Linked DNA regions of Homo sapiens: all the other regions are linked to region 1. The links come from fine-mapping of genetic effects on gene expression. A gene starts in region 1. Each other region holds a variant in brackets. All regions are shown on one strand. Distances are from middle to middle.

Region 1 (5,103 bases):
TCCTTCTCTATCCTCAGATCAATGTTTTGCATTTCCTAGGAGCTGAATTCCTTTTCTTCCATTGCAGCACTGGCTGGGAGAGAAGGCACAACATGGTCCAGCATACTGAGCCCCAAGTTTGTCCTGCAGCATGATTTGAGACACAGTGTTCGTGCCGCACAGAATTCTGTGAGCCGTCCAATAGCCTTTCATACATTTGTTTTCTGCTTAAACTACAGAGTAGATGCTCTTGTCAGCACCTAAGAACACCCTCTATTACACAGAACTACACCCTAATGACATTTTATCTGTTTACGTGTCCTCTCAGAAAAGCTGTGAGCCCCTTGAAGGCAGGAACTTTATTTGTTTTTAAACATTCAGGGCCTAGTAGATAGCAGGCTTTCAACAAATATTTTTGAATAACAACAAACAAGAGTATGGACTTTGGGAACAGGAGAGCCTAGTAGCCAGCGAGCCTGAGCCAATCCTTGATGGCCTCCAATTCTGAGAAGAATCTCTGGGCCCCCTTAGGCTCCCTGTGGAAGAAAGCTTACCCAGTCAATCCTAATAAAAATACTTCTGAGACAGATCTAACAGGACAAAGTGGAGTCTCTCCACTCTTTCAGTAGCTCCTTCACCCCAGGTGCTGTTTGGGGTTCTGACACTGCCATGGCATGGCCAGCAGGATGGCCCCTAGGGCTCCTGGGGCTGCTCTATAAGAGCTTCCCACCCCTGACCTGCAGTCCATGAGGGCAAAGCCAGATCCGGGCACATGCCCATCCGTGTTGTTCTCATGCTCTCAGGGGGTAGAGCTAGTGTGTTGGACTTGGCATGTTTAGGGTCACCTCCCTGAGGGTTGACAACCTGAGCAAAATCAGCATTCCCTTGGCAAGGAATAAAGGGGGAATGGATTTGTGGTCAGCAACCCACCGCCAAGCATTCTGCCTGCAACAGGGTGGGGCTGGCCAGGGGAGGCTCCTCAGGGAAGGTGAAAGCTGTGCAGAGTTTTGCAGGATGACTCAGTGCTTATCAGGTAGACAGATAAGGAAGAACATTCCAGGGAGAGGGAGGAATGCTAACAACAGCAGGGGATCTGGTCTGTACTAGACATGCCAAAGGAATGGTGTGTCCATATCAACAGAGGAGGGAGAGACAGAAGAGAAAGAGCTTGTCAGGGCCTGAGTCAGAGCGGGCTCATGCTGTGGGGCTAAGAAGCTCAAATGATTTCCAGAGACAGTGGGGAAGCTTTACAGGGACAGGCAGGGGAAGATCTTAACCCGGCTTTCGTAGGCCTCTGGCTTGAGTATAGAAGGTGAGTCTGGGACAGGGAGCCCAGCGCCGAAGTGTTGCAACACTATAGGGAGACATACAGACCAATTCCCTCCCACCTAACAGCTCTGTGCTTTGGGGTCCTGGGTTAGTTTCCTGGGAGAAGGCTGGCCTTGGCTACCTCTGTCCTTGACCAAGGACATCGTTTTAAATATTTGTGATGTGTCCTAGGCCACTGCATCTCTGTCCCTGTAGCGAAGAGAAGATACTGATTCCTAAGCTCCTACTCTGAGAACACAAATATCTGCAATACCTCGGTAAGCCCTAGGCCTGAGTGTGAGGTTGCAGGCACTTCCATGGCCCCATGCAGGTGTCTAAGTTCCCTCGTGGTATTTGGCCAAGGGGGGCCCTGTGTGATGCCCTAGCGCGGTGACTACCCGTGTTCCTGGCCCATGGGCATCTTCCACGGAATTCTGGGCTTAGCCTGGGGATTCATGCGGGCGCATCTCTGTGATCTGCTCTGGAGCAGGATGTACATCAGGTCTCTCAGACCTGAGTCCCTGGTGCCTGGCGCTCAGCCTTGACTGAAGTGCTCGGCCCACCCTGCTGGGCCAGCCAGCTCCTGCTCAGGGCCACAGCCCTGTAACCACGGCTTCCTCCCCAGGACTCAGGAATTCTCCCACTCCGGAATGCCTTGCTGCTGGGGTGACCAGGTCTTCACTTGTGAAACAGGAGTCAGCCACCTCAGCCCTGCGCCTGGCCTGGTGGAACATGGGTCACCGCCCCAACCTGGGGCAGCCGCCCCATCCCAACGCAGTTGCTGCCGCTCTCCATGCCTCCCTGTGCCCAGCTAACTGGGGGACTTGTCCCCTGGGAAAACCTGGGTACCCAGGCTGCCTTTGGTTTCAGCCCCTACTCCTCTTCCCGGGCTGCCTTTGCTCCCCGGAAGACCCCTTTCCCCGGGCTGTGTTCACATCGGCTGGGAAGGGTCCCTTGCAGACAGATCTTGGACGAGGTCGCGTCCCCCCTCGTGACCAGCAAACTCCTAAAAGCGGCCCTTGCCCCAGAGCCCCTGTAGCCTCCAACCGGCAGTCAGGAGGCAGCGCCGTCTCAGCGCCGCTTAGTGGCGCCAGGCGTGCCTGGAAATCCGCTTTCGCAGCGCCCCCTCGTAGCCGCCTCCGCCCGCAGAAAGGCGTTCCCTGGACAGAGAAGCGGGCGCGCGGGGGCGGGCGCGCGGGGCCTTGCCGGAGAACCTGACTCTCCGCAGCAGCAGTGGAAGCCGGAGTGACGCGTTGTGTTGAACACCAGTTTTCTGGAGCGCTGTGTGTTCTTAACAGCTGAGCAGTCTGTTTCTCCAATCAGGTTTCAAAGCCACTTCAACTGCACTGGCCCCTGTGGGTCACTGCTGCACCGCCCTGACCCATGTGGGTCCCTGAGGAGCGACCTGCCGGGGCCACCTGGCTGGACGAAAAAGACACACCTTGGACTTAAGCCGTGAGAAAAAAACTTCATCAGTAAGAAGAATGAATAAACAGACTAGGTTGAATCCATACAATGGAATGTTAGCAGACAATAAAAAGAAAATGAACTATTGATGTCCCCTACTGCACAGCAGAAGCTCTGAATCGTGTTCCTGAATGAAAGAAGTCAGGTATGAAAGAATAAACATTGTATGATTCCATTTATATGAAAATGAATCTGTGATTTAAAAATCAGACTAGTATTAGGTTGGTGCAAAAGTAATTGCGGTTTTTGCCTTTTTTTTTTTTTTTTAATAGTTGCTTTGGGGTTTATGGATGGAGTGGCATGGTAGAGGTTAGCTGAAGGGGGCATGAAATAACTTTTTGGGGGTGCTAGAGTGTTGTAAATCTTACAGTGGGGGAGGGACAGGAGTGCAGGCATTTGACAAAACACATTGAATTGTGAAATTTAAGATTTTTGAATTTCTTTGTATGTAAATTACCTGCCAATAAAAACATGACGAATAGAGCAGTTATGAGCATTTGTGTGTAGCTTTTTGTGCAAACTTAAATTATAATTTCTCTGATAAAAGCCCAGGAATGTGATTGTTGAGTAATATGGTAAGTGCATGTTTTTTGAGAAACTGTCAATCTATTTTTGGGAGTGGCTGTGTGTATCATGTTATATTCTCACAAGCAAGGGATGAGAAATTTGGTTTCTCTGCATCCTTGCTAGCATTTGGTTTTATCATTATATTTTTATTTCAACTGCTCAAATAAGTGTGCAGTGATTTCTCATGATCTCAATTTGCATTTCCCCAAAGGCTAATGATGTTAAATATATTTCCACATGCTGATTTGACTCGGCCATGAAATGTCTCTTCATGTCTATTGCCCAATTTCTTATCAGATTTTTTTTTTTACTGTTGAGTTTTGAGAGCTCTTTATGCATTGTAAATGTGAGTCCTTTGTCAGATATGCAGTTTGCAAATATTTTCTCCCCTCCATAGCTTGTCCTTTCATCATCTTAACAGAATATTTTGCAGAGGCAAAGTTTTTAATTTTGATGAAGTCCAATTTATCAATTCTTTCTTTAATGAATCGTACTTGGGTGCCATGCCTATGAACTCATCCTCAACTCCTAGGTCCAGATGATTTTCTCCTGTGTCTTCCTATCATAGCCAGAAACTAGAAAAGAACCAAAATGTCCCTCACTAAGTGAATGCTTAAACTAAGTGACACATCTATGCCAATATTCAGCAATAAAAAGAAACATTATTCATGCAAATAACTAAATGGATGGATCTCAAGAGCATTAGGCTAAGTGAAAAAAACCAATCTCAAAAAGTCACATACTGTACGATTTCACTTGTATAACATTCTTCCAGGGGCAAAATTATAAACAGTGAAAACAGATTAGTGGTTGGCAGGCGTTAGAGGCGGTGGTGGGGAAGTGTGACTACAAAGAGGTAGCAGGAGAGATCTTGGGATGATGGGATAGTTTTGTGTCTTGGTGGTTACAGGAATCTACACATGTGATACAATGTAATAGAAGAACACACATTGTGCTAATGTCAGTTTCTTTGTTTTGATATTGTTTTGTAGAATGTAAAACGTAAACAGTGGAGAAACTGGGTGAAGGATATTGGGACCCCTTCACAAATTCTTGTCAATCTATGATTATTTGAAAATTTAAAAGTCTAAACATACATAAAATAAAAACCTAAAAGGCAAAAAAGTAATGCACGCACTTGATAAAAATCAAGTAGTACAAAAGAGTAAATGGTGAAAATAAATCTCTGCACCACTCTAGAGACCCCAGCCAAAGTCCTCTCCAAACTCTCTCACAGTTATTAAGTTTCTTGTATATGCTTCTAGAAATTCATCTTGCATATGCTTCTAGAAAATCAAGTAGTACAAAAGAGTAAGTGGTGAAAATAAATCTCTGCACCACTCCAGAACCCCCAGCCAAAGTCCTCTCCAAACTCTCTCACGATTGTTAAGTTTCCTGTATATGCTTCTAGAAATTCTCTAGGAATACGCAAAAATATATGTACTTTCCCTACTTCTCTAGCTTTTGTCTAATGCTAGTCTTCTTTCTATTTTTAATTATATGTATTTAATATATCTTTAGGAAAAATTAATACTTTTTAACAGCAGTGTAAGATTTCATTGTGAATGTACCATAATTTATTTAACCAATCTCTACTCATTTAATCTGTTTTTGGTTGTTTAGGCTGGTTTCGGTAGCTTGTTATTGGAAGTTATTGCAATAAACATTCTTATATTACTTTGTATCATCATAGGATAGACTCCTAAAATATTGTGTTTAGATCAAAGGGCATGTGGAATTGTACTTAAGATAGATTTTGTCAAGAAGTCCCCATTCTCATCA
Region 2 (5,103 bases), 30 kb before region 1:
TCCATCTCAAAATAATAATAATAATAATAATAATAATAATAATAATAATAATAATAATAATGCCGTGTTTCTATCAGACCCAGAAATCCCGCAGAGTGAGCTGGAATTCTCTGTTTATCTGTTTCCCCTTCATACCCACTGGCTCCTCTCTGCCCGCTCCTTGGACTGCATCAGCAGGGTGCCTCACTGTCTGGCCCTAGTGGAATTCACACAGTGGAGGACGTCATAGGAGGTGGGAGAGAGAGAGAGAGAGGAGAGGTGGTTATTCACTCAGATTCTTCCTTGCTGGTTTGGCAGTGGCCACATCTTTCTACTGATGGCTGCAGCTCCTGATGATCCTCCTCTACAGCCACAGCTCTCTTTGGGATCTGTGGACACCTTTCCTGTCCCTCTAGACCCAGGGAGATAACAGCTCCCACTCTTGCTGGTCCAGGACATTCCTCATCTCTTACTGGTTCCCTTAACTCGGTCCACACTTCTGTGAACAGCCCCTTTCCTCAAGTACCCATTCGAATATGTCCTCTGGCTTCCACCAGGAGCCTGACTGATACCCACAGGTGGGTGAATGCTGGCGTGCTGCTGGGCCCCTCTTCCTCTGGTGACTGGCCAGCCAAGTCTCCAGGAGTCTCGTTAGGGTGGGCAGGCGGTGGGCACAGCATAAACTGTGAGCTCAAATCCACAGAACAAAAGTGGGAGAAGACACTGGCAGGATGGACCGCCACAAAACTCTTGGCATTCGTGACGTCTGTCCTTTAAATCACGCAAGGCATCATCATGCTTCAGACATGAGACAGCCTAAGTATTTAAGTGTTTCAAATAAACAAATTGTTTTTCAGAATTGGTAATTGCTAAGTTGGCAAATTGCTATTGGAAACATTGGCTGTCCTCGACTCAATGATTCAGCCAGCTAGTCCCTTGCCAAACTAGTTTGTTGGGCAAATTCCACCTTGAGAATTTATCTGCTCCTGTCAAAGCCAGATTCTCCCTGCCTGAGGGGAGGCTGGACTTGACCTTCTGACTCAGGATATGCTGACTTGGGTCCCTAGGTCCAAGGGCGGCCCTCTTGGGCCCACTGTGGGCTGGACCTCTTCCATGATGGGGTGGTGGAGGGCAGGCCCCACCTGATTCACACTTGACCTCATCCAGGCAGGTGAAGTTCCCTGCAGGAGTCACCTGAGCCCAGCCCCTCAGACCAGGATCCATCATGTTTAGGAGGATTTGGGGCTATCTCATGTTCTTTGGCTAGAAAGGGGTCCCACTCTTAGGGGTCTGCCCTCTGTGGGGCACAGATGGCTTGCTGGGGCCCATGGACGGGGCTGGGTGAACGGGAATCTGGTCACAGCAGCAGCAGCTGGAAGGCCAAGAGGGAGGGCACCAGGGCCTGGGACCCATGTCTTGTCCTGAGCCTCCCCGGGCCTCTTGCCTTCTCCCCAGCAGGCATTTGGGATCTGTGTCTGGACCCAGCCTCACCCAGAAGGCCATGGTGTGTTGTCATTAGAATCACAGTGCTCACACCAAGGCAGTGCATTAAATTAGCAGGGCAGGGTCTCATGGGCAGGGGACCATGTGGAGGGGGTGGGGGGAAGGGCAGTTGTCCCCAGAGGCCGTGGTGGGCCTGGCTCTGGGCTGGGCAGTGGGCCAGGGTCCTGCTGTGTGGATGAGCTCTGACAACAGGCTGTCTGGGTCTGGTGAGCTCCTGAAAGCGCGGACTGGTGGAGAGTACCCTAGGGTGGGAGCTCATGAGGAGGGGGTCTGTGGGGTCTGGAAGCCATTCTAGAGCAGGCAGATGACATTTATCAGGGGAGCAGGCATAGAAAGGACCCTTGTGCGAGTGGGGGGGACACAGCCTCAGAAGAAACAGGGAAGGGGCTTTGACAGGTCCAGGGAGAATCCCTGAGGTTTCCTAGAACAATTCCCACCAGCCATGTCCCAGGTGTCGCCCCATCCCCCAGGCCTCTGCAGTGCCAGCCCAATGCCCTGGGCAAAGCATCCTGGACTCTGGCTGTTACAAAAGGAGGACAGGGTCATCTGGACCCGCCTGAGCTCCAGGCCCCCGACTTTCACAGCCCCTTCTGGGTCCAGAAGTTCATACGTATATAAATGAAAAATGTGCAAGAATCATATTATTGTATTCTTTTTCATAAAGAGGCCCCTCTAAATTGTTGAAGCCCCGATTCACCCCTGCCCAAAGGAGACAGCAATGGCATGTGTGGGGCCACAGTCTTGAGACCCAGAGGTCCTGCTGCCCACGATACCCACTGTCCACCCTAGGGTTACTGGCCGTAGCCCTGGAGCCCGCAAACACCATGCAGGAATGCAAGAGGGTCTCAGCTCCAGAGTCCCAGGCTGGGAGGGCCCACAGTCCAGTAAACTAATCAGGCCCTGACACATCCAGGAGAGCAGCTCCAGGAGCCTGCATTGGGGAGACAGCCTCGGACCCCTGCCACAGGCCTGCACCCCAGAAGTAGGAGCATGGGAAGACCTCTCCTTGGCTCCTGGCCAGCAGAAGTCACATTCCCCAGCCCTCTGGCTCCAAGGCAGCCTCACGTCCCAGTCACTCCTTGGCACACCCTACCGGTTGGTCAGAGCTCACTGCCAAAGGGCACCTCAATGATGAGTGGAGGGAACAGGTGTTTACCAGGAGCTTGCATGCTTTGTCTCAGGGATGATTAGGGACACAGCCAAGAAG[G/A]CACGCTATGCCCATTTTACAGATGAGGAAACGGAGGCTCAGGTTGGGCTGGTGACTAAGGGAAGCAGCATGTGGCAGGTGGCTTGAGGCATGTCTGTCCATCATGAGTAACTAGGGAGCAGCCCTGCCACTCCTCATGCGATGCACCAGGAGCCAGGGAAGCTGCTTTCTAGGGGATTCTAGCTAAGGCCAGAAGCATCTCCCTGAGTGGTGGTGGAGGCCTCTGTCTACTCCTCCAGGACTGCCAGGGGATAGGAGGGCACCGCTGACCTCACAGAGCCTCTTGGGTGAGTGAGCATCAGCTGAGTGACACCAGGTGACTACGCTTCTGCCCAGTGCTGTGCCCCCCTCTGACTCAGGCAAGGCACCACCCTGAACGGCCCACCCTGTCCCATGGAGGCCGCAAACTGCTCTGCAGAGCCAGGGTCTCCAGGAATGGGGAGGGCAGTCACCCTCATTCCACTTGTGTTCATGACCCAAAGGACTGCCCAGGTCTCCAGGCCCATAGAACCCCCAAACCTCTTACTAGGCCACACTGGGGACCTTGAGCAGCAGGCTTGGAATCCTAGGCCTTGTCTCCAGGTACATATCAGTACCCAGGCTTGGGAAGCTTTGGTCTCAGGGGGGCTGGCACTCAGGCCCTCTGCCTCAAGGAAGAAGCATGTCCAGATCTCTACTGTCCAGCCCTGCTCCCTGCCCCTATCCTTCACGGGGTCCCTAGGACAGGGTTACAGAAGCCTCATGCTGTCAGGGGATGCTGCCACCCTAGTTCCAGGGTGGCTCCGCCCAGCCCCTTCCTGCTGCCGCCCTCACTGACTCACCTGTCCAGCCTCCTACTGGGCTGGGGTGAGGGCTTATTGCCCCAGAGCCTAGACAGGCACCAGAGGCAGCTATAAAAGCATGTTGGGCCAGTCCTCAGCATCCTAGTTTGCCACTGTCTGCTGCCACACGATGCTGGGAGGCCTGGGGAAGCTGGCTGCCGAGGGCCTGGCCCACCGCACCGAGAAGGCCACCTAGGGAGCCAGTGAGGACCCGGGGCTCCTTTCTACCTGGGCTGGGGGGATCTGGGGCAGACTGAGTCTGTGGGAGGCGGATCTACGTAGGCAGGCGAGGACCTGCGGAGAGGCCTTGGCCCCTCAGGAACCCTGGTCTCCTGCTCTACCAAGTCAGCACGGAGTTGAGGGGTGCAGACCTGGGGAGGTCTCCTGGGGGCAGGGCATGAGTCCTGGTGCTGGGTGAACACTGGCAGCTTGGACCCTTCCCTCTGGAAATCTGGGGAGCCTTTCTTGTCAAAACAGCCTATTCTGAATAACCTATGCAGGAAAAGGAAGATGGATTTTTATTTTTACCATAACTTTAAAGCTTCAAAGATTTCTTAACAAGTCACCAAGTCTGTTCAAAGTCAAAAAGGGCATTTTCAATTTCATCCAAGTCCCCTAAAGCATGTTTATTTTTATTTGTATTTGTATTTGAAATGGAGTCTTGCTCTGGCACCCAGGCTGGAGTGTAGTGGTGCGATCTCGGCTCACTGTAACCTTTGCCTCCTGGGTTCAAAGTGATTCTCATGCCTCAGCCTCCTGAGTAGCTGGGATTACAGGCACCCACCACCACGCCCGACTAATTTTTGTATTTTTAGCAGAGACGGGGTTTCGCCATTTTGGCCAGGCTGGTCTCAAACTCCTGACCTCAAGTGATCCATTCCTCTTGGCCTCCCAAAGTGCTGGGATTACAGGCGTGAACCACTGCACCTGGTCCCGAAGTGTATGTTGTATTCAGAGGTCAGCAGGTATGTGTGGGGAGGCCCAGCCAGGCCCCACTCATGGGTCATCGTGTGAAAAAGTCTTGCCTGAGTTTGTGTCCTCTTTCTAAATGGCAGCAGATGCGTATTTTGTTTTTGACTCTGCAGCTGGTGTGGACCACCTGCTTTAACCTTTCACTAGCCTCTGAGTTTTTTATGATTCCTGTTGGGAGAAAAGCTCAGCGTTGGGAGAAAAGCTGAGGCAGGGCTTGCTAGACTTGCTGGCTCCTTGCTTCTAGCACTGCCATTCTCTCAAGTAGCCATATGTTTCTCATTCATTTGATACACTGTTGCCTTTCAACCTCCACATCCTCACCACCTGTTTCTTTGTTAGATCACCAATAAATAGCGTGGGCTCCCAGAACTCGGGGCCTTCGCAGCCTCCACACTCGCGATAGCGCCCTGCTCCCATTTTCTCTCTCGAACTGTCTCTTTCTCATTCCTTTGACTCCGCTGGACTTGCCGCCCCCGTGACCTGGTGTTGGGTCTCATCATCCCAACAGATTCCCATTCTAAAGATGAGGGAACCAAGAGGTGGAAGGTAGAGTTAGAATAAGAACCATTTCTTCTGACTCTGAAATCCTTCAGTTCTAGCACACTACCACCCACACTTTAA
Region 3 (5,103 bases), 400 kb after region 1:
TACTAAAAAAATACAAAAAAACTAGCCGGGTGTGGTGGTGGGTGCCTGTAGTCCCAGCTACTCAGGAGGCTGAGGCAGAAGAATGGCATGAATCCGGGGGGCGGAGCTTGCGCTGAGCCGAGATCAAGCCACTGCACTCCAGCCTGGGCAACAGAGCGAGACTCTGTCTCAAAAAAAAAAAAAAAAAAAAAATTGGTCTTATCTGCTTATATTTTCTTATAGACTACCATTCATCATAATCTTTCTGTTTTTTTACTTAATTCTAAACTGGTAGCTATTTCAAATATTTCTGAGCAATTGAGTTATACAAATTAACATACAAGTTAGAGGTTTCCATTGTATACTTCCCAGCAAAAAAACAGATTTTTTTTTTTTTTTTCTGTGAGGAGATTGAAAGAAGGGGTTGGTTTTCTGTACGTATTTAATATATTTCATTGATTATCACTTTCTTCCCATTCTTTGGATGTCAGAGACCTGTTATTTGGCTTAAAAATACATTACAGAAAACTTCATTTCTTTAAATTAGGATTTCTTAGGTAAGGGCCAGGTTAGACCCAGCCTTTTCTGAGTTACTTCTCATGCATTAGAATTCTTAAAATGGATGTTTATATCCTAGTGGCCTTGTCTTATGGTTGCCTTTTAGAGCAAGTCAGAGGGTGGTGGTTTCTCTGTCTGGGTGATGCCTGTGTAGTCATTTGATTTAGTCTGGAGTGGGACTTTTCTGTCGAGGGCCAGATAGTGAATATTTTCAGCTTTGTGGATCATATCTTCTGCAGCTACTTAGCTCTGCAGTTGTAGTGCACAGGCGGCCATAGACAATATGTAAATGAATTAATGTGGCTATGTTCCAATAAAACTTTAGTTACAAACACAGGTGATGGGCTGGATTTGGCCCGTGGGCCAGTTGCCAACCCCTAGTGTAGGTGGTCTGTTTTGGTAGTTTCTTCGAGAAATAATGTGTTGTGCTTGTAGGTACTGATGCTTATAGATGCCAGCTTTGGGTTTGAAATGGAAATGTTTGAGTTTCTAAACATCTGTCAAGCACATGGCTTTCCTAAAATTCTGGGAGTTCTCACCCACCTCGACTCCTTCAAGCATAACAAGCAACTGAAGAAGACAAAGAAGTGATTAAAACACAGGTTCTGGACAGAAGTTTACCAGGTAGGAAGAGAAATAATTGTTAGAAACTAACAGTATAATCTTTTAAAAACAGACTAAAGAGGCCAGGCACAGTGGCTCACGCCTGTAATCCCAGCACTTTGGGAGGCAGAGTCAGGTGGATCACTTGAGGCCAGGAGTTTTGAGCTCAGGGCAATATGGCCAAACCCTGTCTCTACTCAAAAGGCAAAAATTAGTCGGGTGTGGTGGCATGCATCTGTAATCCCAGCTATTAGGGAGGCTGAGACGTGAGAATTGCTCAAAGCTGGGAGGCAGAGGGTGGAGTGAGCTGAGAGTGCACCACTGCACTCCAGCCTGGGTGACAGAGTGAGACTCCATCTCAAACAAACAAACAAACAAAAAGACTGAAGAGACATTACTAAACGTCTCTCTAGGAATTGCCTCCTGAATTCCCTTTGTGTATGTGTTCCCAGTCTCTGGAAGGTTTCCCTCAAGAGAGTGGTTATTCTGGGCCTCTTGGTGTATCTCATTTGTCTCCGTACCTGCTGCACCAGGCAATGTCTGGGTGTTTTGGAGTCGGGACTTAATAGAGTACATCAGAAGTTTCTCCCAGTTACAGGACCAGGCACTGCCCCTTCCTTTCCATACTGCTGTGGTCCATCGGCCACAGAACCGTTTCTGTGCTCAGAGGCCTCACCTCCCTCTCCTCACCATACTTAGATGGATGCCCCGGCTTGGTTGCAGAGCAGTCTGCCTCTGTGTGGTTCTAATAAGTCCTGAAAGAATCCAGCAAGGCTCTGGAAGCCTCAGGACAGTGGCTTTGCTGGAAGTCTCCCTTCTTAGGATTGCTTCTTGTTTAGAGCTTTTATTTTGTTGCAGTATTGACGAGAATTTAATTGAAATTTAATTTTTAATTTTCCTTTAATGTTTAGGTTGCCAAACTGTTCTACCTTTCTGGAATGGTGCATGGAGAATATCAAAACCAAGAAATCCACAATCTGGGCCATTTTATTACAGTTATGAAGTTTAGGCCTCTCATGGCAAACTTTTCACCCTTATATCCTGGCAGACAGTTAAAAGGTGATTGTAAACTTTTTCTTCCTGGGCCATATATTTCAAAGCTAAAAAGGCTAGAAAAAGAACAGTGATAGGATTTATTTTGTGCCTATTTGAATAGTGGGGGTAGAAGTGTAGTTGATGGAAAATGTCTACTTATATCATTGCTCAAAGATGCTGTGCCTTTGGGAGTAAATTAATTATGAGATGTTTAGGAAAATGGGAGGACTTGGAAGCATTTAAGACTACAGGATGTGGCCCCATCCTACGTTCAGCCTCAGTTTTCAGTGATGCTGCCTTCATGCCCGGGTGCTGGAGTCCTTCGTGCATGCCTTCAGTTTCCTTCCTTTGTGCTCTTCTTTGTGCTGTGATTTTCTCAGCCTGGAATACCCTTTTTCCACCTGCCAGAATCCAAGCCACAGTACAAATCCCAGAGCACAGGCTCACCCTCTTCGAGAAATGGATTTTCTGAATGTGTTCTTCACTCTTCCCTGACCCCAGGTGGA[C/T]GCCATCTCCCATCTGGTGTCTTATGGAATGAATGTCACTTTCAGCCTAGAGACACAGTTGTGTGCCTGCCCCTTTTCCTCTTCTGGATGGTGAACGGTGCTTCCTTATTTCTGCATTTTCTAGTTCCTAAGTGATGTGCTTAATGGACAAGAGTGTGATGAGTCATTGACACATGAAAGGAGGTATAGGAACTTTGGCATTCATTTCTGCTGTATGATTGAGTTTATTTTTCTAGGATGGAAGATTTGACAAACCCGGAGGATATCCAAACAAACATCAAATGTGACCTGCAGGTGTCACTTTATGGTTATTTAAGAGGAGCACACTTGAAAAATAAAAGCCAAATTCACATGCCAGGTATTCTCTTGCTGTAGAACATACGAGAATTGCACATAGGATTCTTGGGATGGCTTCATTTCTCAGGAAAAGTGAAAAATGACCAAACAAGGGAAGATGGCCTTGCTGGAGGTTTTAAAAGTAAGCCAGCTATGTGTAGGCCTGCAAAGGTGTTACCGAATCCCTCTTCTCTGACCTCTTGTAGCTAGAGGGCCACTGTTCCAGTGTGGCACAATGCCCTTCTTTAGGGTCATGGGTTAAGCCCTTGGACTGTGGATCGTTTTTAACCCCCCAGTCAACAGTAGATACTTACTGACTTCTTGTCAGTTGAAGCTGGCTTTTTGGGTCCTGTCTTCCAGGGGTAGAACATTTTGCCATGAGTGACATCAGTTTCCTCCCAGACCCTTGTGTTCTTCCTGAATAACAAAAGAAGTGCTGTTTAAATAAGAAGGAGCAGCTGGTTTATGCGCCTGTTTCTGGAGTTGAGGGTGTGCTGTATGACAAAGACGCTGTCTGTGTTGACCTTGGTGGCAGCCACGGTTTTCAGGCATCAGTGAGGCAGGAGTCTTTGCTCTGAACTCTCATTATTCTTTCCTAATCTATTTCTTAATCAAAAAAAGTAATGTACTCAGCTTTTATTTATTGAAGATTTTTCTCTTGTACTTATAATAAAGGCCCAAATGCATATTGTCAATATGTAGAATAAAAAGAATACCATTTTTTCATTGTACCAAGCAGAAGAGTCCTGTCCTCCATGCCTCCTTGATCCGTGGCCCCAGCGCGGGCACTGCTGCCAGTGTGGCACCTGCACGGCTTATTTCCGTTTCTACAAAATCAGTGTGCTTTCCAGCTCTCGTTTGTCTTTTTCTTTTTCTCAATCACAGTGGTCTCCTCATTATTTTAAAGTGGATTTCCAATATTTATTTCTTAGTTCTGTAGTTGAATTTTATTGGGTTAAAAGCAGGGTTACTTAAAAATGTTAGAAAAGCTAGCACTGTTGTAGCACTGGAACTGAGGTTTTTCTAGCTAGGTGTTTAGGTTATCAGGTTATATACTCACTGAGCTTTGGACAAGTTTAATGGAGATGGGGATCCATTTCAAGCTTTGTTATAAGGATTTTCTTCTCTGGTGTTTGTGGCATTAAGAAAGGTTCTCAGGAAATGTGTCTAAGATAATTTTGAGAAACTGAGTGAAACCAGTGTCTCTCCAGGATCTTTGTGCTTTCCTCACGTGCCCTTTCTTGGTGGCCTTGATAGGACAAGGTGGGGCTCACCCATGAGCTGGTCCAGAGTCTCATCTCCACCTACTCCACCATTGATGCCAAGATGGCTTCAAGTCGAGTGATGCTGCTTTCCAATTCCAAACCACTTGGGTCAGAGGCTATAGATAATCAAGGGTAAGTCTGCTTTTTTTCTATTTTTAATAAAAAGATATATTACAGAAGATCGTATCACCCATAATTCTGCCATCATAACACATTTTGGTGGGATTCATTCTATGTCGTTTTGTTTTTCTTTGTGTGTGCATGTGTCTCTGAGGGCTCTTCACTTACCTGACATTACAAGGGAGTCTTATCTTGAAAAAAATACAGGATGCATTTTTCAACAGACTTCAAATATTCCTCAAATACCACGCCATCTTCCATAGGTTGCTTTTTTGGTTTTTCAGAGACCTGAGGCCACTTGGCTTTCTTTTGATGGCCGAAACACTAGAGCAGAGTCAGGGAGTTTGTGGCTGTCCAGAAGCCACATGCCTTGTCTCTGAAAGTTTTATTTAGATTATGTTGTATTATCTCCCATGGGTAGGTTTCCACTAATGTGTGGCTTATGTGAATTATTTTTCAGTCTGGGTTGGGAATTTGTATACCTTTATGCTTAGTGGATGTTTGCAAAACACTGATTTTGTTGTATTGATTTATGACTTCCAGTAAAATTTATCTGAAAATTTTGAGATAGTGTAGTATATAATTTGTTACAATGTGCATAAACTACCTACCACAGTGCCTGACATAATGAGTGTTATTAGCTGTTTTCATTTTTGCGTATCCTTCTAGACATCCTTGTCTACAAGAATACTCTCTTCTAA
Region 4 (5,103 bases), 77 kb after region 1:
AAGAAGCATCAGCCTCAACCCAGGTGAGGGACATACTACAGAATAACTGGCCTGTCATCTGGAAACATAAGGCCATGGAAGTCAAGGAAAGAAGGGAGAACCATTCCAGATTGAAGGAGACCAGAGACAGGAGAATGAAACCTGTGTATCTTGGGACAGCTGATGAAACTTTAGTGGAGCCTGCAGATGAGGCGGTAGCAAGGTGTTCATGCAAATTGCCGGGATCATGCTTTCAAATGGCATAGAAAAATTAATGTTCTTTATCCTCACTTTCAACTTTTCTATAAGTTTAAGATGATTTAAATTATATTTTTAAAGGTGTCAAAAATTTTCTTCATCTTTATAGAATGAAACAGAAATAAAAATTGAAAGTGGTAACCTCTGGAAATAGAACTGGGGGAAAGAAGGAAAGAATATCAACGGGAGTTATCTGACCCATAGGATTTTAGGTCATTTTTTGCTTTGTTTCCTTTTCTAAATTTCTCTCTATTAAAAAAGAATGAATGATTACAACTTTATAAAGGAAAGAATCCATAAAATATATGTAATTAAATCCCATGGTACAAAGGGCAAAGAAGCTTGGCAACAACGCTTCCAGCCTCAGTTTTGTCATATGTAAAATGGAGCAAAGATGGGTTCAGGCTCATTACAAACTGGTGAGGGTTCAAATAATTAAGGGATAGGGATAGAATATCAAAGTATTTTCAAAGCCACATAGAAGGGAGGTGTGAGGGAGGGTTCCTAGGACTTCAAAGTCGGAAGCCGATAAGGGCCTGGCCTTCCCAGAAGCCTTCTAAGTAGAGATTCTGGCCAGCAGGGCTGCTGAAGTGGGCACACCTGCTGTAGGAGGCGTCTCCTTGGGCCCTGAGGGATCACCTGTTCTTTGTTTGCCTTTGCTTCTCTGCTGAGGCCATAAAGAGGCTGGGCTGTAAAATAACCTACTCTGGCCCCAGGAAAGAGATAAGAGATGTCAACTGGGCAGCCAACACCTTCCCTGCCTCCCACCCCAAACAGCTGGCCCTGCCCTCCCCACCCCCACCTCTTCTTCTCTCCAGAGTAAAGCTGGACTTCCCTACTGCCTCCTGCCTGTCCCTTCTCACCAATGCTGCCACCCTTTTTCTCCACTCTATTTCAAGGAAGTAGCCATCTGCCACTAAAACTTTATCCCATGGTCCAATCCATGAGCTTGAATCCAACCAGCCCAGAGCAGCATTTTCCCCCTTGATAGAGAATAAGAGAAAGACAAAGACAAAGGCACATTATTTCCCTAAAGTCCTATATTCCCTGTCTTCTGTGAACCAGTGAAATTATCAACCCACAGTGGGTCAGCTGCCCTTCTGTGGAGCACATCAGAGGAAAAATACCAACGCAGCCCTGGCTGCACACTTTGTGTCGACTCTCCCAATCCTTCTCCCTGCCTTCTGGAACTACAGAGATTCATTCAGTCTACTGTCATTCAACTAATATTTTAAAGCAGTTCAGTAGACTGAATGTTACATGGACAATAGACTCAGTGTTACAGAGACACTGGATGTACAGTTTCGCTTCCAAAGACATGTTATAAAAAAGGGCACAAATGGGATAATAAGTAAAATAGGCACCAGATTACCATATGCTTTGAACAGAGAATTTACCCTATTCTATTCCCCATCTCAAATTGTGCTTAGCTATGTTGTCCTACCAAAATTCCCTGATATGGTGATATATTAGTTAGCTAAAGCTGAGTAAAAAAGAGCCACAAAATCTTAGTGACATACAATTGACATGACTGCAGGTCAGCTGGGGCTAGCTGACCTAGGCGAGCTCAATGGGGCAGCTCTGTTTCAAGCTATGAGTCCAACTGGACTTGGCTCCTCACTGAGATTTAAACTTCTCCACTGATATTCCATCTGGGGCTCAGGCTGAAGGAGTTCAAAGAAGTGTTATGCATGGAGATGGCAGCAGTTCAAGAGGACAAGCCCAGCTATGCAAGGTAATTTCCATTCCTCCGTGAGTCACATCTGCTAACATCCATTGACCAAAGCAAGCTACATGGCTGAGCACAGTCGAGAGGCAAAGAACTGTCCCCCACCTACCCTGAGGCCAAAGCAAGTCAGAGCCATGCCCAACATTAATAGAACCAGTAACTACACTCTTC[C/T]AGTGAAATGGAGAGGTGGAAGAGTGAATATGTTTGAACAGTAGTCTCATCTATCATAGTCAATGATACAATTTCAGAAATATTAAGGAAACCAGTATTTGTATCTATCTCATTGAATATAATAATGAAAAATTTCTCATCTTACATTACCAAGTCCAACTCACTTTTTTCCACAGATAATTTTAAATCTTCCCCCAAAAGAAGCCCCATTCCATTTTCTCATGGAAATAATAAACTCAAAATTTCCCATCCCCTAGAGCAGTTTCACTCTGAAACAGATACAGTTTCCCTACACTTCCAGACTGGGCTATAGAAAGTTCTACAAGGACACACAAACATAGACAAAAAAGAATATTGCAATATTAGTCGTGTGTGTGTGTGTGTGTGTGTGTGTGTACATACATCACATGAGAAAATTCCCAGATCCAAATGAGGTATAATAGCAGCTTATAATTAGAGTAACTATTCCATTATACAAAAAAATTATCTCCCAAAAGGTACTGTTAAATCAAGTTTAGCCGGCCGGGTGCGGTGGCTCACACCTCTAATCCCAGCACTTTGGGAGGCTAAGGCAGGTGGATTACCTGAGGCCAGGAGTTTGAAACCAGCTTGGCCAACATGGTGAAACCCCATCTCTACTAAAAATACAAAAAATAGCCAGGAATGGTGGCACACACCTGTAGTCCCACCTACTTGGGAGGCTGAGGCAGGAGAATCGCTTAAACCCAGGAGATGGAGGTTGTGATGAGCCGAGATCACGCCACTGCACTCCAGCCTGAGTGACAGAGTGAGACTCCGTCTTAAAAATATAATAAAAAATAAATCAATTTAGCCTAAATCTGCCTCCTTACATATTTTAAGTTCAGCCTAAAGGTTTTTCTGTACATCATGAACTATAACAAGTGGAGGTGTAAACAGACTGTAGTCTACACTTGTGCTAATCAATGAGTTTTGGCCAATCAAATGTAGCCAACTGTTTGAACCCTGTTCAAATAAGGTGAACACCAAGCTGTAACCAATCAGCTATTTCTGTACCTCACCTCCGTTTTCTGTACCTCACTTTCCTTTCTCTGTCCATAAATCTTCCTCCATCACGTGGCTGTGCTGGAGTCTCTGAGCCTACTCTGGCTCAGAAGGCTGCCCAATTCGCGAATCATTCATTGCCTGCTCACTTAAGCTCCTTTAAATTTAATTCAGCTGAAGTTTTTCTTTTATCAGATGGTGTCAGAGCAGATCTGAAGTAGAGCTTCTAACGACTCCCAGGAGTGCTGAGTGACCGAAGCCAGGTACCTGCAGGACCTATTTGTGTTCGTTGATCTCTCAGAGCAGTTGGAAGTCATGGTAAGTTTTCTCTCCAATGTCAGAGCTCCACTGATTTGTGTTTTGAGCTCTCCGAGTTTCTTTGAGCAAATTTCTGTTCCAAACTGGGTTTGGAAGTCATGACAGAAACTGGGCTGGTTCAAGGAATGGATTTGATCTGGTAATTAACTGGCTTGGATACAGTTAGAGGCCTCTTACATCTGACTGGGTCAGAAAGAAATGTAGTAAATGGTAATATTGCAGGGGTGTAAAATTAGGCTATTGAAAATTCACAGGGATTTTTGTGTTTTACCCCTTTGTTTCTTTTTTTTTTTTTTTTTTTTTTTTTGAGACAGTCTCACCTTGTTGCCCAGGCTGGAGTGCAGTGGCACAATCTCAGCTCACTGCACTCTCTGCCTCCCAGATTCAAGTGATTCTCCTGCCTCAGCCTCCTGAGGAGCTGGGATTACAGGCGTCTACCACCACGCCCTGCTAATTTTTTGTATTTTTAGTAGAGATGGGGTTTCACCATGTTGGCCAGGCTGGTCTCGAACTCCTGACCTCAGGTGATCCACCCGCCTCGGCCTCCCAAAGAGCTGGGATAACAAGTGTGAGCCACTGCACCCGGCCTTGTTTCATTTTTCTTATGCACTTTGGTAGGAGAAAAATCATTGGCTAGGTTGATCAAAGGAACCTGAGAGCAAAGCCAAAATCTGAGGTAAAAATTGAATCCTTAATTTCTTTTTTTTCTTTAATTTGAGACGGAGTCTCGCTCTGTCGCCCAGGCTGAAGTGCAGTGGCGTGATCTCCGCTCACTGCAAGCTCCGCCTCCCGGGTTCACGCCATTCTCCTGCCTCAGCCTCCCAAGTAGCTGGGACTACAAGCACCCGCCACCACGCCCGGCTAATTTTTTTTGTATTTTTAGTAGAGACGGGGTTTCACCATGTTAGCCAGGATGGTCTCGATCTCCTGACCTCGTGATCCGCCCAACTCGCCTCCCAAAGTGCTGGGATTACAAGCATGAGCCACCGCGCCCGGCCTGGATCCTTAATTTCTGAAGAACTGAGTTCCTTCTGGCTAATACCTGCATAAGTGGTAGGCCCCGGAAGCAGCAGTCTTATAGAAATGGTGAAATCTTACTAAAGATAACTTAGAGTGGAATGTTCCAAATGAACAAAACTGCACTGAAGTGCATTTGAAAATGAGGGCTCCCAAGTTAGTCTCATCTAGGGATGTCTATTGATATGCAGAAGCTTCTAAAAAGATTTCAGTATTTTTATTTAAAGACTTTACAAAAGGCAAATCGAAAGCTTATGCGACTCATTGACTTAAAAAATTAAATCTGCTAGCCTTTTAGCTTAGTTACGATCCCGATCCAAAGGAAATAGACCGCAGCACCAATGGGCTGACTTTGGGTGAGTAGTGGGTTCATTTTACCTGGTAAAGGATGGGATTGGGTTGGAGGCCTTCCCCCTCAGTAAAGTCCCTCTTTGTTAAACGTGGATTTGGCACCATGGGGTTAACCACTATTCTCTTTGGAGTGATCTGCCTTGCACTCTTTGCTAACACCAGTGGGTGATAGGATTAGGCGTGTACCAGGCCATAGAACGTGGGGAACTTTTTCTCCCCAAAGGGGAAAATTTGGGAGCTGATGGGACTGCTCGAAA
Region 5 (5,103 bases), 28 kb after region 1:
TCCTTCCCTGGCCTACAGAGAGGCTGCACCATTCTCGAGTCCTAAGCATGGCATGGCCACAGTACTTGCATTCACCTTTATCTCTGATCATGAAGTTGAGCAAGCAGCTGACTCAAGGGCCAATGATCCTGCCAAGGTCTTCCTACAGGTGTTCCCAGCAGGCCTGCTAGCCAGGGGTGTGGCGCCACAGGTGCTTATCATGGGCCCACTGCAGGATGGCTGGTCCCCAAGCAGCCCCACCCAGAGAAGCTTCCACCATGATCCTGAGGCAATGCCTAAGGCCTCTGGAGAATGAGGTGACTATCACTGTTGGGGGGGCATGATCAACACAGGGTGCAAGTCAGTTTCTTGGGTGCTTACAATGTTCAATTATTGAATCTGAGTGCTGGTGACATGGTTCCCTTGGCAAAGATTAATCGAACCATATAATTATAATTTGTGTATTTTTGTATATGTCTGTTCACTTCAGTAAAAATTTACATGAAATGTACTATTAAAAAAAAAGCTACTCTTGCCCCAGCTTCTTAGCATATGCATAAAGCGATGCTCTGAGAGCATCTTACTGATCATGAGAGTTCCCCCAAGGTGTTTATAATTGGTTCTCAGAGAAATGCTGGCTCCCTCCTTCTGTCCCCTTAGCTGAAGCAGGCTGTGCATGATACAGCCAGAGGAGGGAGGCCATCAGTGTTCTGCCAGAGTTATTTGAATTTAAGCCCCTGCACTCTAGAATTCTTGAGGCTACCCAAAGCTTCATGGAGCTCATGATGAGATTCAAGGTGCAGATTCCTATTTTGGCATCTAAATCAAGTGAGGACACATTTATGCAAGGACCTTAGGCATCCATATCAGTCACAATAAACAGTTTTTGAAATAATTTTAATTATTTTCAAATAATGCATAATAACCTCAAAACCTAGTGGCTTAAAACAATAATTTGTCACCATCTTTCACAGTTGAAGGAGTTGGCTTGGCTAAGCCAGGCAGGTGTTGTGTGGGGTCTCTCCCTGGGTTAGTCAGATGGCGTCTGAGTCATCCAAAGGCCCGACAGGGCTGGACATCCCAAGTGGCTTCCTCACATAGCTGGCAGCTGGGAACCGAGTGAGGGCTGTGGTCTGCAGGCCTAGGCACAGCTCCTCCATGTGGCTTGGGCCTTCTCACAGCATGGCATCTGGATCAGAAAGGCAAGAAGTGGAAGCTGACAGCCTCTTAGCCCTGAGCTTAGAAGCGGGCACAGCACCATGTGCCTCACTCTATGGGTCAGAGAAGTCATAGAGCTCACCTAGATTCCAGGGGATGGGACAGAGACCCCACCTCTCAAGGTGAGCTCTCTAACTGGGAAATCCGTGACCATGACTTTGAAGTGAGGTTGGATCCAGGAGTCCAAGCAAGGTCCTGAACTTTCCCTCCCCGTCTCTGGCCTCTGCAGGGCTCTGTTGGGCTCCAGCTTCAGACACAGTCTCCCCAGGAGACAGCTATGGTGCTCAGCAGGTCCAAGCTCAGACTCCTTAGAGCACATGCCGAAGGAGAGACAACTGCTCTCCCAGCACTCAGTTTCCTAACAATGGACCCTAGTTGGCCCTGCTGTCCACGTGCTGATCCCAACCTAATAAGCACGTCCAATGTGTGACACACTCTGGCCAATGTGGGTCCTCTGACTGCCCTTGTGGTGGGCAGTGGGGGGCTCTCTTTATTATTACCCCCACCACAATCACATAGAAAGTTTGTAAAGAGGATTCCTTTTCTCAAAGCAGGGAACCACAGAGCTCATACTGTACCCCAAGTCCCCTGCAACGTTACCTACAGGTCATGCAACCAGCATTAAGTTACAAAGAGAAAGGTGGGTACATCTGGAACTCCCTAGGCCTCCTTTTCCAGTCCCTACCTCGGGATGTCCAGCTGTCACTCCACCCCCACGTTCTCCCCCTACCCTCTGGGCCTCCAAGGCCACCTACCTCCCAGCCTTTCCTGCCTCCCTCTCCAGAAGGCCAACTGCTTCCACTGGCCACTTCAGATGGGCTCATCCCCCGGCCCTCCCCCAGCCCTCACCCTTCTCTTGAGTTCTGACAGGATAACATCGTTGATATGATTTGGCTTTGTCCCCACCCAAAACCTCATCTTGAATTACGATCCCCATAATCCCTACGTGTTAAAGTTAGGACTAGATAGATGAAGGTAATTGGATAATGGGGGCGGTTTCCCCCATGCTGTTCTCATGATAGTGAGTGAGTCTCGTGAGATCTGATGGCTTTATAAGTGCCCAGCATTTCTCCTGCTAACACTCATTCTCTCTCCTGCTGCCCTGTGAAGAACTGTGAGTCTATTAAACCTCTTTTCTTTAGAAATTACCCAGTCTTGGGTGTTTCTTCATAGCAGCATGAAAAAGGACTAATACAACTGGCTTCTAGGGTTAGCCGGGGAGTACCTCCGGCATAGACTGGGGGCCACATGGACTCAACATCAGACCACAGGCCTGTTAGAGGAGGAGGCGAAGCCGTCGGTGGAAGGCACACGAGGGATCTGAGTCCTTTTCCTCCCTGCCTGTCTGTGGCCCAGGGAGCCAGTGGTGGAGATGACACTTTTTTTTTTTGAGACAGAACCTCACT[C/G]TATCTTCCAGGCTGGAGTGCAGTGGCTCGATCTCGGCTGACTGCAACCTCCACCTCCCAGGTTTAAATGATTTTCCTGCCTCAGCCTCCCACATAGCTGGGATTACAGGCGTGCACCACCTCATCTGGCTAATTTTTGTATTTTTAGTGGAGACGGGGTTTTGCCATGTTGCCCAGGCTTGTCTCAAACTCCTGATTTCAAGTGCTCTGCCGGCCTCGGCTTCCCAAAGTGTTGGGATTACAGGCATGAACCACCACGCCGAGCTAGAGATGCCACTTCTAAGGTGTCCTTAGGTTTCAGAGGCCATGCAGGTGAATGGAGGGACAGTCATGGTGTTCTGTCTTTTGTTATGGAATAGTTATTATTAAAATCCTGGAGTGGGTTGAATTGTGGCCCCCACAAAAGGTTGGTCTGGGTCCAAATTCCTGGATCCTGTGACTATAACCTTATTTGGATAAAACAGCTTTGTAGATGTAATTAAATTAAGGATCTTCAGGTAAGTTCATCCTGACTTTGCCATTTTTAATTAAGTTGTTTGTCTTCTTATTATTGAATTGCAGGAGTAATTTTTATATTTTTGATACCAGTACTTTGTTAGATATAAGTTTGAGTACTCAGTCCTTGTAAGAGACAGAAAAGGAGAGACACACACAGAGGAGAAGGCTATGGGAGGCTGGAGGCAGAGATCAGAGCCACGAGCCAAGCTTGGAGCTACTGGAAGCAGGAAAGCAAAGAAGAACCTTGCCTGGAGCCTAAGTAGGGAGCACAGCCCTGTGACACTGTGATTTCGGACTTCTGACTTCCAGAACCGTGAGATAATAAATTTCTGTTCTTTTAAACCATGAAGTTTGTGGCAATTTGTTACGGCAGCCCTAAGAAAATAATACAAATCTTCTTTCACTGTCAAAAGTGCCTGGGTTGGAATCTATTGTAAGGACTCCCAGAGAGCTCTCGGGAAAGGAAACAAGAAGCCGGTCCCCTAGGCCTGGGCCTGACTGAGGCCGGGACCAGAGGCTCAGGTGGGGCCCTGGAGGCCAGCAGGAGGGCCCAGCCCAGTCACCAGTACAGGAGATTGACAGGAATGAAAGAAAATGTGTTGAGGGGTGTGCCTTAGGTCACGGGTCCCCAGCAGCCAGCAGCATCCGGAGGCTAGCTGGGGTCCTGGGTCCTGGCCATCTTTAGTCCTCAGAGACACAACTGACGTGCGTGTTGGTCCATCCTCAGGCTCACAGCCCTGAAATCTCTCTCCTCTGAGACAGAAAAGGAAGTTCATGTCAGAATCGGAGCACAGAGAGATCATGAATAAGCTGATGTCAGTGGCCCACTCACTGCCAACCTTGCTCAGCTCTGAGCATGATTATACCCAATCAAAGCATGGAAAATCAATGAATCTGCAGCCCAGGATACTGGGTACTACATCCACAGCCCAAAGAGCCTCTCCGGGGAAGGTTGCTAAGATACTAAGGGAAGGATACTTTGGAAAGATGGAGAAGTAAAAATATTTCCTACACCCTTTGTTTTGGAGAGACTATACCTGTATCTGGGATGCACAGGTGAGTTCAAACACCAAGGCGTTTGTGGATGGTGCCCAGGCTATACTCGAAGCAGAGCCGTCTCCTTCCCTGAGTGCCCTGCTCCTGAATGACCAACTGCAGGAGGTGGTGTCAGGCCCTGGGCTGTGCGAGGAAGGGAAGGCAAGACGCAGTGAGCCAGGGAAGGACACAGGACAGGGCTCATTGAAGCCCTACCCTACAGTGATACAAAACTGCTGCACAAGCTGGTCCCCAGAGAGCAACAGAGGAAGACTTAGGAGGCAGAGAGACTGGGAACACCAGTGGGGATGGGAGGGAAGTCTCCAGCCTGAAAAAGAAAATGGCCAATGGAAGAAACTAGGAAATAAAACATGGTTGCGAGTAGGGTATTCCCTACTTCTTCGTATGAGTCTGGGTTCTAGGAGGTGAATATGCATACAGTCACATGCTGTGTGACACTTCAGTCAACTACAGACGGTGATCCCATTAAATTATAATGGAGCTGAAAGAATCTTATCGCCTGGCAACAACCTAGTGCAATGTATTATTTAGGTGTTTGTGGTGATGCTGGTGTAAACAAACCTGCACTGCCAGTTGTATAAAATCTAGCACATAGAATTATGTACAGTGCATAGTACTTGACAATGATAACAAATGACTGTTAGCAGTTTATGTATTTACTATACTATACTTTCATGATTATTTTACAATGCACTCCTTCTACTTATTAAAAAGAAAAAGTTAATGTAACACATCCTCAGGCAGGTTCTTCAGGAGGGATTCCAGAACAAGGCACTCTCATCACAGGAGATGACAGCTCCATGTGCATGACGGCCCCAGAAGACCATCTGGTAGGACAAGATGTGGAGGTGGAACGCAGTGATATTGATAATCCTGACCCTGGGTAGGTGTGGGCTAATGTGTGTGTCTTCATTTTAATTTTTTTCTAATTTAAAATGTAAAAAAA

Alleles and levels. Alleles are on the strand shown, and positions count from the first base shown. SD is a standard deviation of normalised expression in the study named. Not every link is listed here.
For the expression in lung of the gene that starts at base 2,468 in region 1, T is the high allele of the variant in region 3 and C is the other (moderate effect, 0.61 SD a copy in GTEx).

The links.
Region 2: its variant is fine-mapped to the expression of LINC00842 in unexposed skin (GTEx, PIP 0.97).
Region 3: its variant is fine-mapped to the expression of LINC00842 in lung (GTEx, PIP 0.98).
Region 4: its variant is fine-mapped to the expression of LINC00842 in sun-exposed skin (GTEx, PIP 0.93).
Region 5: its variant is fine-mapped to the expression of LINC00842 in sun-exposed skin (GTEx, PIP above 0.99).

Annotation. Positions count from the first base shown.
Region 1 is chr10:46,395,895-46,400,997 of GRCh38, forward strand. LINC00842 (long intergenic non-protein coding RNA 842) reads left to right here and starts at 2,468. Exons shown (of 4, transcript NR_033957.2): 1 at 2,468-2,899. RefSeq lists an enhancer at 728-1,343.
Region 2 is chr10:46,365,473-46,370,575 of GRCh38, forward strand. It overlaps the pseudogene FAM25BP. Among named protein-coding and RNA genes, the nearest start is that of ANXA8L1, 7.8 kb to the right of the region's middle. The variant G/A (reference allele first, on the strand shown) is at 2,690.
Region 3 is chr10:46,793,755-46,798,857 of GRCh38, forward strand. It overlaps the pseudogene BMS1P1. Among named protein-coding and RNA genes, the nearest start is that of FAM245B, 56 kb to the left of the region's middle. The variant C/T (reference allele first, on the strand shown) is at 2,682.
Region 4 is chr10:46,473,123-46,478,225 of GRCh38, forward strand. No RefSeq gene overlaps it. Among named protein-coding and RNA genes, the nearest start is that of NPY4R, 9.7 kb to the left of the region's middle. The variant C/T (reference allele first, on the strand shown) is at 2,138.
Region 5 is chr10:46,423,595-46,428,697 of GRCh38, forward strand. The region is part of intron 1 of LINC00842 (long intergenic non-protein coding RNA 842); the gene reads left to right. Among named protein-coding and RNA genes, the nearest start is that of LINC00842, 28 kb to the left of the region's middle. RefSeq lists enhancers at 810-1,310, 1,311-1,811. The variant C/G (reference allele first, on the strand shown) is at 2,604.